Linked DNA regions of Homo sapiens: regions 2, 3 and 4 are each reported to be linked to region 1. The links are microRNA targets in miRTarBase. Many come from high-throughput screens and were not tested one by one. Region 1 holds a microRNA gene; each other region holds the end of a gene's coding sequence. Distances are from middle to middle.

Evidence for each region. Region 1 holds the annotated microRNA hsa-miR-454-3p (UAGUGCAAUAUUGCUUAUAGGGU, at 2,454-2,476, shown strand). A microRNA usually pairs through its seed, bases 2 to 8, with sites in the 3' UTR of a target mRNA and lowers its output. Matches are read on the target gene's strand: a 7mer-m8 pairs with bases 2 to 8, a 7mer-A1 pairs with bases 2 to 7 and ends in A, and an 8mer does both.
Region 2: the mRNA of CYB5D1 is a reported target of hsa-miR-454-3p. The part of its 3' UTR that is shown has no 7-base or 8-base seed match.
Region 3: miRTarBase lists PRKCSH as a target of hsa-miR-454-3p. The part of its 3' UTR that is shown has no 7-base or 8-base seed match.
Region 4: the mRNA of SEC23B is a reported target of hsa-miR-454-3p. Seed matches in the 3' UTR shown: 8mer at 3,419-3,426.

What each region holds. Positions count from the first base shown.
Region 1 is chr17:59,136,263-59,140,262 of GRCh38, reverse strand. It overlaps MIR454 (microRNA 454), which reads left to right and starts at 2,391; the gene lies at 2,391-2,505. All of the region lies in intron 1 of SKA2 (spindle and kinetochore associated complex subunit 2), which reads left to right.
Region 2 is chr17:7,859,328-7,863,435 of GRCh38, reverse strand. CYB5D1 (cytochrome b5 domain containing 1) reads right to left here. Exons shown (of 4, transcript NM_144607.6): 4 at 1,154-4,054. The coding sequence ends at 3,824. It also overlaps a transcript of NAA38 not described here. Among named protein-coding and RNA genes, the nearest start is that of CYB5D1, 3.4 kb to the right of the region's middle.
Region 3 is chr19:11,449,117-11,453,224 of GRCh38, reverse strand. It overlaps PRKCSH (PRKCSH beta subunit of glucosidase II), which reads right to left. Exons shown (of 18, transcript NM_001289104.2): 16 at 4,050-4,108; 17 at 3,797-3,959; 18 at 2,257-2,579. The coding sequence ends at 3,813. It overlaps ELAVL3 (ELAV like RNA binding protein 3), which reads left to right. Exons shown (of 7, transcript NM_001420.4): 7 at 1-1,899. Among named protein-coding and RNA genes, the nearest start is that of PRKCSH, 16 kb to the right of the region's middle. RefSeq lists enhancers at 219-989, 914-1,033, 1,064-1,113.
Region 4 is chr20:18,560,231-18,564,338 of GRCh38, reverse strand. It overlaps SEC23B (SEC23 homolog B, COPII component), which reads right to left. Exons shown (of 20, transcript NM_006363.6): 20 at 2,924-3,688. The coding sequence ends at 3,599. Among named protein-coding and RNA genes, the nearest start is that of SMIM26, 5.1 kb to the left of the region's middle.

The DNA of each region.
Region 1 (4,000 bases):
AGCGAGACTTCATCTCAAAAAAAAAAAAAAGCTTGCAGATTGGGAACTGATGAACCTGAAGCCCTTGCTCACTTTTATCCCCTCTGGTTGCCAATTGCCTGAAATAACATGTCTGTGACCTGGTGTTAGGGCATGTTACTGCTTATCTGTTTTGGACAAGCATAGTCATGCATTTGTTCTGTTTGGAAGAGAGAATGGGTAATAGTCAATACTTTCTCCAGCAGAAAAAGGCAAAAACCAATTTTGATTGTGGAGACATGATATAAGTGGTCCTTAGCTTGCTGGGAACTTGAAATATTTCCCTTAAAACGTGTTTTAAAGGGTAGTTGGGTTCCCAGGTGGTTTGTTCTTTCAAATGAATGAATGTTTGTTCTTTCATCTATTCCCTTTTGTCACTGCACATTAGGCTGTATATTAAAAACTAAGGATACAAAAAAGCGATCTCTTGCCAGGAAGATGTTTGAAACCATGTGGCGACATTACCATGTAAACATAGATTAAAATATAATACAGTAGATGGTAAACCAAAGCCATGAACAAAGTAAAAGGAGAGTAGATAAAGGTGTTTCTAAATGTACATTGAAGAGAAGAAAATGTACAAAAAGTAGATTCTGGCCGGGTGCAGTGGCTGACACCTGTAATCCTAGCACTTTGGGAGGCCAAGGCGGGCAGATTACGTGAGCTCAGGATTTCGAGACTAGCCTGGGCAACATAGTGAGCACTCATCTCAAAAACAAAAAAAATTTAAAAATAAAAATAAAAGTAGGTTTTTTGATTATAGCCAAACTAGTTCCATTAAGATACTTAATTCTCCCTTAAAATGTTTCTATGGAAAATGCATTTCTTTTTTTTTTTTTTTTTTTTTTGAGACGGAGTCTTGCTCTGTTGCCCAGGCTGGAGTGCAGTGGCGCCATCTCGGCTCTCTGCAACCTCTGCCTCCCAGGTTTATGCCATTCTCCTGCTCCAGCCTCCCGAGTATCTGGAACTATAGGCATCCACCACCATGCCCAGCTAATTTTTTGAATTTTTAGTAGAGACGGGGTTTCACCGTGTTAGCCAGGATGGTCTCAATCTCCTGACCTCGTGCTCCGCCCGCCTCAGCCTCCCAAAGTGCTGGGATTACAGGCGTGAGCCACTGCGCCCAGCCGGAAAATGCATTTCTAAGCCTGTTTAGTAAGTCCAGAACACACCTGTCTACCAACTCTTCTCTATGCCTAGCCCACCATAGGTGAGACTGAAATACTTTTTTTCACTTTATGTAATTTAATGCTGTTGAGATAAGGTCTCTCATAAGAGGATGTGTTTAGAGCTTTAAGGGCACTGGTCCTTTGTAGGAGAGCATACGGTGGCAATGAGAATCTAGGGGTTGTTTGTAAAAAGCAAGTGTTTTAAAACTGAGGACCACACAGTATATTGTGACAACCGCAATATATTCTTTTCTCCTTGCTGCCTAATAGTTGAGTAGTATGGAATACCTTGTGCCACTTACTTAAAGCCTTAAACTGGTCATATTGAAAACTAGACTAGAACAGGCTGGGCGCGGTGGCTCATGCCTGTAATCCCAGCACTTCAGGAGGCCGAGGCGGGCAGATCACTTGAGCTCGGGAGGTCAAGACTAGTCTGGGCAAAATGGTGAAACCCCATCTCTACCAAAAATACAAAAAATTTACTAGGCGTTGTGGCGTGTGCCTGTAGTCCCAGCTAGTCGGGAGGCTGAGGCATGAGAATTGCTTGAGCCTGGAGGCAGAGGTTGCAGTGAGCTGAGATTGCGCCACTGCCCTCCAGCCTAGGCAACAGAGTGAGACGCTGTCTCAAAAAATAACAAACAAACAAAACAACTGGTTGAGCATCCCTAATCCAAAATTCCAAAATCTGAAATGCTCCAAAATCCAAAATTCATTGGACCATTTCAGATTTTGAATTTTCAGATTAGGGATGCTCAACCAGTAATTATTATGCAAATATTCCAAAATAGGAGGAAAAAATCAGAAATCTAACTGGCAGAATGTAACCTGGTTTCCCTTGGGGTGCTTTCATGATGATTTCCATAGACTTTTTTCACCTAATTTTGTATTTTATATACCACTTTTCAGATCAGTATAAAACTTTTCCCCTTTATTTTTATTACTGATTTTAGAGAAAACTGGTTTCTGAAATACGAATATCTTGGGCTTTACAAAAATCACTAGTTTTATTTTAAATATTCCATTGCCCCTAAAAAGTTAAACAATAACCTCACTGATTTCCAAGGCTTCCAGGAGGCTGATTTGTAACTGAAAGGGCTGTGAATGATGTTTATCAGAATCAAATTTGCGCGATTTATCAGACACTAATGAGTTTTAGATTATCATAATTGCTTAGTGAATTTCTGCCATCTAACTAAAAAAAATTCTGTTTATCACCAGATCCTAGAACCCTATCAATATTGTCTCTGCTGTGTAAATAGTTCTGAGTAGTGCAATATTGCTTATAGGGTTTTGGTGTTTGGAAAGAACAATGGGCAGGCTGCAGAAAGTATGTAGCAGAAACAAGCAAAAGTCATCTTTAGGAAGAAAACAAGGAACTAGATTTCACTATAAACATTAAAATCTGAGGCTTAAATGTAAATTTTTAATTTATTAGAAGAAGGTAACTTTTCTTTTTGACAAATGGGTTTATTTGTAGTATAAAGAAATAATGGAATTTTAGTATTGAAAAGGATCTTAGATTCCAACTCATTTGATAGGAGAGACCCAAAGAAATGAGGGACTTAACCTAGGGACACATAGCTGGTTAGTGATACTAGGACTAGAATTTCTACCATGTATCCGAATTCTTTTATTTTTCTGTACCATACTACCATGTTGTGTTCAGAGGGAATTTTTAGTTGACTAGCTTTGTAACTTTAGTGATATTAATTTAAAACATAAAAAAACTTTAATTTTAGGTGAAGAATGTACATTTTTGGATGGGTGTGGTGGCTGACACCTGTAGTTCCAGCACTTTGAGAGGCTAAGGCGGGAAGATTGTTTGAGCTCAGGAGTTCAAGTCCAGCCTGGGTAACATAGCGAGACCTTGTCTCTACAAAAAAATACAAAAATTAGCTGGGTTTGGTAGTGCACGTCTGTAGTCCCAGCTACTCAGGAGGCTTAGGCAGGAGAATCAAATCTCTTGAGTCCAGGAGGTTGAGGCTGCAGTGAGCTGTGATTTGTGCCACTGCACTCGCCTGGGCAACAAAGCAAGACCCTGTCTCAAAAAGAAAAAAAAGAATTTACATTTTTTCCACATGTGTGACTCTTAATGGCTTAAATATCATCTATAACTTTGTCTAACTACATAAGAAAACAGTAATGGAAATAGAACTAGAGGCAAGTTACTTTGCTATTTTCTCATTTATAAAATGAAGGGTTCAGAGCAGACATTTAAGATGATTTTTCGGCTGGGCGTGGTAGCTCACACCTGTAATCCCAGCATTTTTGGAGGCCGAGGAGGGCGGATCACAAGGTCAGGAGATCAAGACGAGCCTGGCCAACATGGTGAAACCCTGTCTGTACTAAAAATACAAAACTTAGCTGGGTATGGTGGTGCACGCCTATAGTCCCATCCGCTCGGGAGGATGAGGCAGGAGAATCGCTTGAACCCGGGAAGTGGAGGTTGCAGTCAGCCAAGATTGTGCCACTGCACTCCAGCCTGGCAACAGAGTGAGACTCCGTCTCAAACAAAAAAAAAAAAGCTTATTTTTCTATCTTTCAACATTTTGGCATCCTTTTTGCCCCCTGCTTATTCCCTAGCCCACTGACTTCACTAATAAGCCAGTACTGGCCAGGCACAGTGGTTCACACCTGTAATCCTAGTACTTTGGGAGGCCGAGGTGGGTGGATCACCTGAGGTCAGGAGTTCGAGACCAGCCTGCCCAACATGGTGATACCCCGTCTCTACTAAAAATACAAAAAATGAGCCAGGCATGGTGGCAGGCGCCTGTAATCCCAGCTACTTGGGAGGCTGAGGCAGGAGAATCTCT
Region 2 (4,108 bases), 51 Mb from region 1:
ACCTGTGGGAAATCTTGCCAGTTGAGTCCTTTGAAGCTGCTGTGATTCACTGAGGACGGCAGCCTTCCCTTCAGCATTCCATCCTTCACCCACCACCCTCTAACACAAAAGAGATTACCACAAGAGGACTTGGACCCTACACTCATGTTCTGTTTGCTTTCTGGGTTTTAGGCTAAAGCATTATTTACATACTCCTCATGCAAATATCCACTTGGCTATTTAGAGAACAAAGCAGTGCCTACTGGAAAGATTTTTTTTAAGTATTAATAAGTGAATGCATTCTATTATTTTAAAAATTTGTGATGTCTTTATCCCTTTGTCAGCTCCATACTTTGCCCCATACACTCCCATACCTGTAATCAGGACCTCCTTTTTGTTCTAGCCCATGAATTCCTAACTGCACTCCTTTCCTGCCATGTGCTTGTGAGAGAAAAAAAAGCAGGCATAAACCTAATGCTAATAGAACGGTGGCCATGTGGTTTTTCCTTGTTTTCTTGTCCTTCCCTCCCCCTTATAAATCTCCAAAGGCCACCTTCCCATCCTAACTTTGGAAGGGTTTTCCCTCCAGGCTTGTCTCCCTGACTCTATAGGTAATTACAGCCACCTGGTGGCCATATGGGGAAATGACAGATGGATTGGCCCCCAAAAATCTGGTGAGACCCTCTTTTTTTTTTTTAACTTTTTTTTTTTTTTTTTTAGATGGAGTTTCGTTCTTGTTGCCCAGGCTGGAGTGCAATGGCACTATCTCAGCTCAATGCAACCTCCATCTCCCGGGTTCAAGCGATTCTCCTGCCTCAGCCTCCCAAGTAGCTGGGATTATAGGTGTGTGCCACCACGCCCGGCTAATTTTTTGGATTTTTAGTAGAAACAGGCTTTTGCCAGGTTGGCCAGGCTGGTCTTGAACTCCTGACCTCAGGTGATCCCCATGCCTCGGCCTCCCAAAGTTCTGGGATTACAGGCGTGAGTCACTGCACCTGGCCAGAGACCCTCTATGGAATAACTTTTGGTTTTGGATATTGGGGAAGCAAGGAAAGTGAATCCTATGGATAGAGACTATAGCACAGGAACCAGACATCCTATTTCTTGGTCCTTCCTTGCCTACTAGGACACAACATCCCCCCCACTAGGTATAGACGGATGAGTTCACTTAACATTGGAGTTCATTCAAAATTTATTGAGCTGCAACTGTGTGCTCAGCAATGAGAATATAGCAGTGAGCAAGATGTGAACAAGATCTCTGCCCTCGTGAGCTTACAATCTAGCAGCGCAGCCAGCCTATTACAGCCATAATTTTACAATTGTAATAAAAACTCTGGAAAATGCATGGTGCTAACTGATTTATCAGAAAGTCTTGACCCACCAAGAAATCAGAAAAGACCTCCCTGAGGAAGGAACATTTAGGATCAGCTAGGTGGAAAGTGAAAGGAAGAGTGTTGCAGGCAGAGAGGACAGTGTGTGAGGGTCTGAGGCAAGACATGTAATGAACTGAAAGCCAGTGTGTCTAGGCCATAGAGAACAAAGAGGGGTGTTGCGAGATGAGCCTGATTTATACAAGATCTTTGAATTTAGGACTTTATTCCAAAAGCAGTTGGAAGCCACTGAAGAAGCTAAGGAAAGTTCGATGTTTAGGTTTGTTTTTCATAGCTGACTCTCATTGCAGCATGGAAGTCAGAAGTGGAAATGGGAGAACAGGTTAGGAAGTTTCCGTAGCAGTTTAGACAAGAGGTGATGGTAACTTGGAGAAAAGAAGATAGGTTCCAGAGATATTTAGGAGACAGATTACACTTGATGAGTGACTGGATGTGTGAGGAAAGGGATGTGTTTCTAGCAAGAGACATTGAAGTAGGAGTCTCTGGAAGAGGGACAGGTTTTGGCAGAATGGGGACATCCTGTAGGCACAGGACAGGCCCTGAGGCTTGCACTAGAGGAACAGCATAGCTTTCATTCTCAAATAGTTCAGGGTTTAATTGAGCAAACAAGGTACACATAATTGCAGAGTTGATTAAAGATCAAAATGATCGATTTAGATAATTCATGGACTCCTGCATTCCATGGGGTTAGATTTAAACCCTCCATCTCACAGTAAATTCAGATACTGCCGAAGCCAACAGCAATGTTTCCACCTTTGTTCATGCCTCCCAAAGCCCCTCAGAAAATGCCTATATAGCCCACCAGTATCTCACAGGGGCCACCTTCTCCTGTGCTGGGCCCTGGTGTCCCCTGCCAGAAGACACACTAAACTCTTCCTGATTTGTTTTTTGCTTGCTGCTGCCAGGAAGTTCAACTGTCTGTCATTCTCAAATCTCCCCTCCTTAAGTTAAAGGAGACCAAATCTAGCCATTACCCCCAATAGTGGTTCTCTTTTGGTCACCAGGAGAGTTTTCTGACTTAGTTAGCATCTCTGTTTACATTACCCCTGTCGAGCTCCCTCTTTTGGAGTCACCGTCTTGCAACCCTGTCTTCCTCATCTTCTCCAAGTGGCAAACTGCCTCCTTTTTCTCCCTCGCCAAAGTGTCACTAATTTGCCGGCCTTTTCCCCACTCTAGTTTTCCTTCAAGTTAGTAAATACCCACCTCTTTGCCCCAAAAGGTCAGGAGAGAAATCTGGGGTATGGGATTAACAAAGAAGTAGCCCCAATAGCTATTGCTTAACTGACACTTAGCCTTCCTTGCCTCCTCTTCGCCACAGGAGAACTCTGCAAACTCCCTTCCAGAGACAATAACTGCAAACTATACAATAGGACCACAATTTCCTATTGTGCAGGGATCCTAGGACAAAGCCACATCCCAAATACTTGCTGAGAGCAGTGGCTACAAATGTTAACATGAGATTAGACATTGAGATGGTCCCTTTATATTGAGAGAACATGGACTTTGGAGTTGGGCAGACTTGAATTTGCATTCTGGCTCTAGTGGTTACTACCTAGTGTGGCTTTGAGCTATTAAACTTTCCAAAGTTTCGAAGGACTTATCTGTAACATAGTAATGGTAATCCACCTTATGGGGTAGTTGTCTTGAAGAGGCTATTTGGGAGGCTGAGGCAAGAGGATCACTTGAGGCCAGGAGGTTGAAACCAGCCTGGGCAACACAGCGAGACCCTGTGTCTACAAAAAATTAAAAAATTAGGCATTGTGGCGTGCACCTGAAGTCCCAGCTACTCAAGGCAGAGATGGGAGGATCACTTGTGCCCAGGAGCTCCAGGCTGCAGTGAGCCATGATTTTGCCACTGCACTCCAGACTGGGTGACAGAGCAAGACCCCTTCTCTTTGTTGGGGGCAAAAAAAAAAAAGAGGGTATATGAAGTACCTAGTATAATATCTAGCCTGAATTGCCTATAATGACGCACTTCCTTTCTTTCCCTTGGGTTTCAGCTGCCAAACACTCTTCTACAAGTAAGATAAGCCAGCTTTGTATGGTCAATGATAAACATTTCCTATTTCTTTGTAAATCCCATCTTCCTGCAGACATCTCATTTCCATCATTGCCAAAAAAGTCCTTCCATCCCTCACCCCTGTAGAACTACTCTCTCTTAACTATCAAACAGTTCTGCCTGAACTCTGACTATCCTCTTCTACATCTCCCTAAACCAAGGTACTTGATCTTCTTGTATCATTCCCAAAGATTAATTCACTAATTTTCTCAGAGCAAACTGTAATGAAGGCAGGGAATAGGGCCTTTACACTTCAGAAGGGCACAGGCTAGCTCCTGGAGAGGAGTGGAGATCTGGGTCCAGGCACCCCTCGGCCCCACCACTTTTCCTCAAGGCACAGAAAAAGCCAAACTCGAAATACGTCTTGAGTCTACACGAGTGTACATCTCCTTGCCTACAACTCCGTGAGATCATCATTGAAGTACAGAAGTATTGCAGGTGTGTGAAGTGTACCGTCCATACTGAGATAGTCAAATTCTTCCTCCTCATCCCGGATCCCATTCTCTTCCAGGGTAAAATCCATGTTCAGGTTCTTCCCTTCATATTTCCACGTGTAGCTGGCAGCATGTGAGTTATAGGGGAGATAGCGGTGTAGGATTTCCCATATGGACTCCAGAACCCCCACCTGGAGAACACAGAAGCACCCCACCCCCAGAATTCTGGATGGAGTATACATATA
Region 3 (4,108 bases), not on the chromosome of region 1:
GTCACGGTGGGCTGGAGGCAGCCCCCCCCCCCACAACACTTGAGGCCAAAGGACACCCCTGTCCCCGGGGCTCAGCCTCCCCCTGGGCCGAGGCCTTGGCCCACACAGCTGAGGGAGAGGCCCAGCCCTGAGCCTCCCCCACCAGGACTGGGCCTCCCCGGCAGCAAGACCCCGGCACTCCCCGCCAGGCCCAGGGTGGGGTGGATGGGCCCAAAGGCCCAGCCCCACACTCCTTTCCCGTCCACTTGTCACCTACCTATCCCCTTTCGGTTTGTTGGGTTTTTCGTCTTTCCAGATTGCAGTGGACACAGCCCCCGATCTCGAGCCCCGGCCCCCGGCTTCTGTCTGGACATTGCATCGCCCTAGTTTTCTTTCTTTAAAAAAAAAAAATTCCAACAGAAGCCACAGGCCGGAGCCCCTGGGAGCCCTCGCACCGCTCCCCACCCCACTCAGCGGCCCCATCGGAACTGAGAATTGCAAAACCCCCGACTTTAGCTATAGTTAAGTTGCCTTCCCCCGGTGTCCCCACGTTTGGTGTCTGGCTATGGCGCCCCCATCTGACTGTCCAGCTCTCTCTCCCCCACCCCTCCCGGTGTTGTTATTAAACGTCTGTGGAGCTTCTGCTGCAAGGAACAAAAAAGAAAAAAATCAAAAAAGCGACAAAAAAACACAAACAGAAGAGGAAAAAAAAGCAACAAAAAAAGAAAACACACAGAAGAGATTTAAAAAAAAAAAAGGAAAAAAAAAAAAGACATAAACTGGCACCAGTTAACTTTCTTGTACTTTTTTGCTGAATTTAGCTTCTTGTAGTTTTAACTTATTGCTATGTTAACTATTTATTCTCCTCGTTGCCCTGTAAGGACATCCGTGTATATTTCTGTTACTTCATCCGGTTTGCAAGTTAAAGGAACGACAATGTTCTCTTTGTTTCTTTAAGTTTTGCCGAGACATGGTTATGCCTAATTTATTTATAAAAGGGGAAGTGGAATCATTAAAGTAATAATAATTATTAATAACAGTAATGGTAGCCGAGTGGCACGCGGGGGCGTGTGCTCTGCGGGACAGTCCCCACGGCCAGCGACGTCCAGGTCACCAATGGGATTCTTTTTGCTCTTGTCTTGAGAATTTTTTCAGTCCTATTTAGCTGGTGAAATCCCTAGCTTGTTCTTGATACACGAACCTATTTATTCTCGTGGTTTTAAGTCCTCCCTGCCCTCTCTCCTCTCCCCTGCAGCAGGGCAGGGACCCCTCTCCCCTGCTGTCTCTTGGGGCTCTCTCCCCTCCGCCCTCTGCATTCGGGAACACGCACGTCCGCGTGGGAAGCTTGCAGCAGGGCGTCCGAGCAATAAGGGCTGGGTTTGTCCCCCACCCTGGGGGGGGCCAGGCTCCAGAGAGGGGGCACCTCCCCACACACCCCCCCCCCACCGAGGCCTAGGCCCCTGCCACCCCCAAGACTGGGAGGGGACTTCTTTTTCTAAAACACAAAACTCAGCCCAGCCAGGCCCCCTCCCTGGAGGCCAGCCCCTCCCCGCAGGGGGCCAGGCCGGGGCTCCCAGGCGAGGGGGACTTGGGGCTTCCACGTCCCTGGGGGGCAGGGGCCAGGCCAGGGGGGAGGGGGCTCAGCCCCTCCACCCCTCCCTTCATCCTGTTATTTATTCGGAAGGTTTCAAATCACGACAGAGTCCATGTTGGAGGTGATAAAAAACTGTAAAAAAAAAAAAAAAAAAAAAGACAAAACAAAAGACAAAAAAAAAAAAAAAACCCAACAAGAACACTTCGCGTTGCGTTTAGACTATTTATTACCGGGATCACAGGCCTGGCCGCGGTAACAGACTTTTACATGGAATTGTTTAATTATTTGTACTTTTCATGCCAGAAAATAAAAGTTCAGAATCTTAAGGCCTTGGGTGATCTCTGCACCGCTGCGCGGGGAGCACGCAGGAGCAGCCTGTGTAGTAGCGCCCAGGCCCCCGTCCTTCTCTGGGCCTGGGTCTGTCTGCAGCAGGGGCTTTGGCCCCGGGAGGGAACCCTTGGCCTCCACAGAGCACAGATGAGACCCAGGGAAGGTGGGACACGGGCCCGGATGGATGCTCAAGACAGAAATGGTCCAGGGTCCATCCACCTGGTATCTTCAGGAGTGATCCCCAGATGGTGGGGGAGGCCCGGGTGGGATCTGCAGAAAGCTGCGTCCCCTGCGCTCAACCCCTGCCCACACCCCGGTCCACACCCCAGCAAAGCGAGGCAGACACAGACAAGTTTGGGTGGGGGATCACATTTATTGTATTGAGGTCACAGGTCAAGTCATTCACTAGTCCCCACTAGGAGGGGTGGCAGGGACAGGGCTGGGGGTGGTGGGGCGAGTCACCAAGGTGGGGGGCCCAGGGAGGGCAAGCTCCTTTACCCATCTTTGAAGGCTGTTGGGGCCTGGGAATGTGGACCAGCCCCGCCTGGGCCCCAGAGCAGGGCACGAAGCCCCACAAAGGTCCTGCCGCCACAGAGGAGGGCAACAGAGCCACAGGCAGGCCCAGAGGGGCGGGTGGACGGCACTGCAGGGGCTGGCTTCATGCCTTCTTGAGGTTCTGGGGCAAGAGAAAGACCAGATTAGAAAGCTGGGGACAGCTGGACATGGTGATGTTTGCCTGTAGTCCCGGCTGCTTGGGAGGCTGAGGTGGGAGGATCATTTGAGGCCAGGAGTTGACCAGCCTGGAGACCTTGTCTATTTTCTCTTATTATTATTATTTTTTTTTTTTGAGAGTCTCACTCTGTAGCCCAGGCTGGAGAGTGCAGTAGCATGATCTTGGCTCACTCCAACCTCTACCTCCTGGGTTCAAGTGATTCTTGTGCTTCAGCCTCTTGAGCAGCTGGAACTACAGGCACCTACCACCACACCCAGCTAATTTTTTTGTATTTTTAGTAGAGATGGGGTTTTACACCATGTTGGTCAGGCTGGTCTCAACCTCCTGACCTCAAGTGATCCGCCCACCTCAGCCTCCCAAAGTGCTGGGATTACAGATGTGAGCCACGACGCCTGGCCTATTTAGTTTCAAAAGTAAAAAAATCTTTTTTTAAAAAGCAGGGGATGGCCAGACATGGTAGCTCAAGCCTGTAATCCCAGCACTTTGGGAGGCTGAGGAGGGCGGATCACGAGGTCAGGAGATCGAGACCAACCTGGTTAACACAGGGAAACCCCATCTCTACTAAAAATACAAAAAAATTAGCCAGGCGTGGTGGCGGCGCCTGTAGTCCCAATTACTCAGGAGGCTGAGGCAGGAGAATTGCTTGCACCCAGGAGGTGGAGGTTGCAGTGAGCCGAGATCGCGCCATTGCATTCCACATTCCAGCCTCGGCAACAAGAGTGAAACTCCATCCAAAAAAAAAAAGGCAGGAGATGGCCGGGTGTGGTGGCTCATGCCTGTAATCCCAGCACTTTGGGAGGCCAAGGCAGGTGGATCATCTGAGGTCAGGAGTTCGAGACCATCCAGGCCAACATGGTGAAACCCCATCTCTACTAAAAATTAGCCAGGCATGGTGGTGCACACCTGTAATCCCAGCTACTTGGGAGGCTGAGACAAGACAATTGTTTGAACCCGGGAGGTAGAGGTTGCAGTCAGCTGAGGTCGCATCACTGCACTCCAGCCTGGGCCAAAGAGTGAGACTCCACCTCAAAAAAACAAAACAAAAAAGCAGGGAACATGGGGACACAGGTTGATAGAGTGGCCATGTGGGTCCATCTTCCTCAGGGCCCGCCGCCTCCCCTTGCTGGGGCAGGCCGACGAGACTCCACCTCCCCGCCCACCTCTGCGCCCATCCAGCTAGAGCTCGTCATGGTCGTCTTCGGTGGGTGCTTCAGGCGGTGGCTCCGGGCAGGCGGCTGGCGTCATCAGCTCCATGAGGTACTCGCAGCGACTGGGCTCTGTGGTGCTGGTCACCATGGTCTCTTTCCCGCACAGGAGGCGCACCTGGGGATGGGCAGACGGGTGCTCGAGAGGGTTCGGCTGGGCCAGGCCTGGGTCTCCCCGCCCCAGCTCCCCTGCCTTGCAGGCACTCACGGTGGTGGAGCGGTTGGGGCCCTGCCAGCAGCCCGTGCCTTGCTCATACTTCATGGCAC
Region 4 (4,108 bases), not on the chromosome of region 1:
GCAGAGTTAGCTGGGTCTATCACACAGTCTTTTTTCTGTTAATTTGAAACAGAAAAGCCAAAGAGGATGTTTTGGCCTTAATCTGTACAGACAACTTTATGTATTCTTCTATATGATGTGTTAAAAATTATATCCAAAACTAAAAATATTCTTGGAAAACGCACAGAAAAATGTAAATGTTCAACTTTTTTTTTTTTTTTTTTTTTTGAGATGAAGTCTCCCTCTGTCACCCAGGCTGGAGTATAGTGGCGTGACCTCAGCTCACTGCAACCTCCACCTCCGAGGTTCAAGTGATTCTCCTGCCTCAGCTTCCCAAGTAGCTGGGATTACAGGTGCCCACCACCACTCCTGGCTAATTTTTTAATATTTTTAGTAGAGATGGGGTTTCACCATGTTGGCCAGGCTGGTTTTGAACTCCTGACCTCAAGTGATCTGCCCACCTCAGCCTCCCAAAGTGCTAGGATTACAGGTGTGAGCCACCGCACCTGGCCAATGTTCAACATTTTAAGATAGGAAACTCTGCTAGAATTCTGCTAGAATGTAGGGCAGAGACAAAAAGAAATACAATAACTTGTATTCGAATACAAATTCAAAACAGAGTATTGCAATCAATCCAGCTGTTCCAACATCCAATTAATAGGAGCTTCCAGCTTCATTTTCCTACATAGCACTCATTACCTTCTAATGTATCATTTACTTCATTTCTTTTTTGTTTTTTATTTTTTTGAGACGGAGTCTCGTTCTGTTGCCCAGGCTGGAGTGCAGTGGCACAATCTCACTGCAACCTCCATCTCCTGGGTTCAAACAATTTGTCCCTGCCTCAGCCTCCCAAGTAGCTGGGATTACAGGTGTGCACCACCATGCCTGGCTAATTTTTGTATTTTTAATAGAGAAAGGGTTTCGCCATGTTGGCCAGGCTGGTCTCAAACTCCTGACCTCAGGTGATCCGCCCACTTCGGCCTCCCAAAGTGCTGGGATTACAGGCATGAGCCACCACGCCCGGCCATATCATTTACTTCTAACATTGTTATTGTTGGTCTTCCCTAACTAACACATAAGCTCTATGAAAACAGGAATTTTTGTTTTATTGGCAGTATTCCCAATGCCTAGAAGACTACTCCATAGACAACAAGTACCGGATAGTTATTTGTTGAACGAATGAAAGAATGACTCCAAAGTTCTGAGATTATCTTGGGCCTATACTTTTTAGACCCAGTGGGTTAGTCTGTCTTTGGATCTCTGTAATGGAACACCCGAGACTGGGTAATTTATTTTAAAAAGAGGTTTACGGTTTATGCTTATGGCTTACGGTTCTGTAGGCTGTACAGGACGCATGGTGCCAGCATCTGCTTCTGGTGAAGGCCTCAGGAAGCTTACAATCAGGGCAGAAGGTGAAGAGGTAGCCCGATGTACCACATGGCAAGAACGAGAGGAAGAGGTGGGGGAGGTAACACTTTAAAAAAATTTTTTTTGAGACAGTCTCGCTCTGTCCCCCAGGGAGTGCAGTGGTGCGATCTCGGCTCACTGCAACCTCTGCCTCCTGGGTTCAAGCCATTCTCATGCCTCGGCCTCCTGAGTAGCTGGGATTACAGGCGCAAGCCACCACACCCGGCTAATTTTTGTATTTTTAGTAGAGATGGGGTTTCACCATGTTGGCCAGGCTGGTCTCAAACTCCTGACCTCAGGTGATCTGCCCGCCTCAGCCTCCCTAAGTGCTGGGATTATAGGCATGAGCCACTGTGCCCAGCCAACACACTTTTAAACAATCATACCTCATTTGAACCCAGGACAAGAACTCACTCATTTCTGTGAGGATGGCACCAAGCCATTCATGAAGGATCCAGCGGTATGACCCAAACTCCTCCTACCAGGCCCCACCTCCAATCCTGGGGATTACATTTCAATGACGGACTTGGAGGGGACAAATATCCAAACTATATTACCTGGCAAAGCTATAAAGTGTGAAGACAGAATAGATTTGCAGATATGCTAAGATGCAGTGAGTTCTCCCCAAGTACTCCTTTTAGTAAAAGTCATTTGAGATTGCAAAATGCCTTATGGAATAAAGGGAAGAGTGGAACTAACCCGAGATTCCAAACAGAAGAAATTCCTGGATGACAGTTGTGCAGTAGGTCAAAGTTATTGGCCCCCCTTAAAAGGGGACATCAGTGGCCTCCAAAGAAGAAAAAAATGGACTTCATTCAGTAGAATAGGCTAGAATTTCTTAGTAAATAGAAAGCAAAATATTTCTTCTCTCAGAAAGCAAACAAAATTTAGAAATTCTGGGGAAAACCACAGCAAATCTAAGAAATCATAATCCAAATAGGGATCAAACCAACATGCGGCATGATGGAATGTAAGAAAGTAACTCTGATTCTGTCCTTTGGAATGTTTTCCTACAAGTGACATAGGGACTGACTGGGACACTAGCACCCTAGAGAAAAATGTCATCCTACCTGGCTTGGACTGGAACAATATTTACATCATCACGGCTGTGTAAATGCTTCTTAGGAGCTTTCAGCTTTGACAATCAACTTAGTGACAAAAAATATGATAATAGGCCAGAATATAATCTCTTTTTTTTCCTGAAACAGGGTCTTGCTCTCCCACCCAGGCTGGAGTGCAGTGGCATGATGAGAGCCCACTGCAACCTTGAACTCCTGGGCTCAAGTGATCCTCCTGCCTTAGCCTCCCAAGTAGCTAGGACTACAGTCACACACCACCATGGCCCAGTAACTTTTAAAATTTTTTGTAGAGACAGTCTCGCTATGTTGCCCAGGCTGGTCTTAAACTCCTGGCCTCAAGTGAGTCTCCTGCATTGGCCTCCTAAATTTAGCACTGGGATTACAGGTGTGAGCCACTGTATCTGACCCAGAATATACATTTTACCAATCTTGATAATATAAAAATAAAAATACAAAAATGACCAAAGGTATATTAATATATTGATTCTTTGAAAATGAGAATTGAGACATGGGCTAAAATTAAATACATCAACAACAAAAATCTTGTAAGGAGAGGTTAAAAGCAGTTATCTTCAAAAAGTAGGTCTGAGTTTATAGAGTGGAGGTAACTTATTTGTTATGAGCTCTTTAGGATAAGGTATATTTGTTTCATTTTGATCCTGCATATACATTACTTTAATTATGAGAATTAGGTTCAGGAAACACCTCTTAAGGAAGTCACTTAAAACACATACACACTCACACAGAGACCTCAGGAAATCACATTTGTATTAGCAATATTTTAGCCAGTACTTTCTGCATCTAGATTTATTTCCTTTATGATCATTAAGATTCTCACCTAAACAAGCTGCCAAAATACATTACCTCTGATTTTATTTAGATTCTAAAAGTTAGGATACAAAAAGCACATAAACATCTACAAGTACCAAAACATTTATGACCTTATAATTTTATAGTGCAAGAAAAAGGACAAAGACAGGAATACAAATAAATTATAATCTAAAGAGTTACATATAAAATGTCCTTGATTATTTGTTAAAATCTGCTAGAAAAGTAACAGGAATGTTATCAAGCCTTTCTAGACATTTTGAACACAATCTGACACCGTTGCATTTCCTGGTTGTATCCTCAGCTTAACAGGCACTGGAGACAGCCAGCTTCTTCAAATGGTCCATGAACACCTGCAGGCTAACATCATCAGTTAGGATGGGTGCTCCAGTTTCCTGAAATGTAATGATAAAGATTAGTTGGCAGATATCTTAGAAGCTGATTAGAATTCATGAGCTGTCAAGCACCTTCCCTCAGAACATTCACAGGTGTTGTCCCCTCTGCTACGAGTACTCCCATCACCCCATCCTCTGCCTCACGAACAACTTCTTTTGACTAAAGCACAATTTCCTCACAAAATCCTTTCCTGGTATGCCGAGATCAGGCCACCACCGCCTGCTAGTTTTGAGCATCAGGCGTTTTACTTTACCCTCTTCTCCATAGTCCTGATGAAGTACCCAGGGTCTAGCTCCCCACCACTGTGAGCTCACGGAGGCCCATATGCCTGCCTTTCCTCTTAAGTGCTCTGCTTACCACAGAAGCTGGATAATGGTGTACCCACAAACGAGTGAACTGGTATCTCCACTGAACAGATG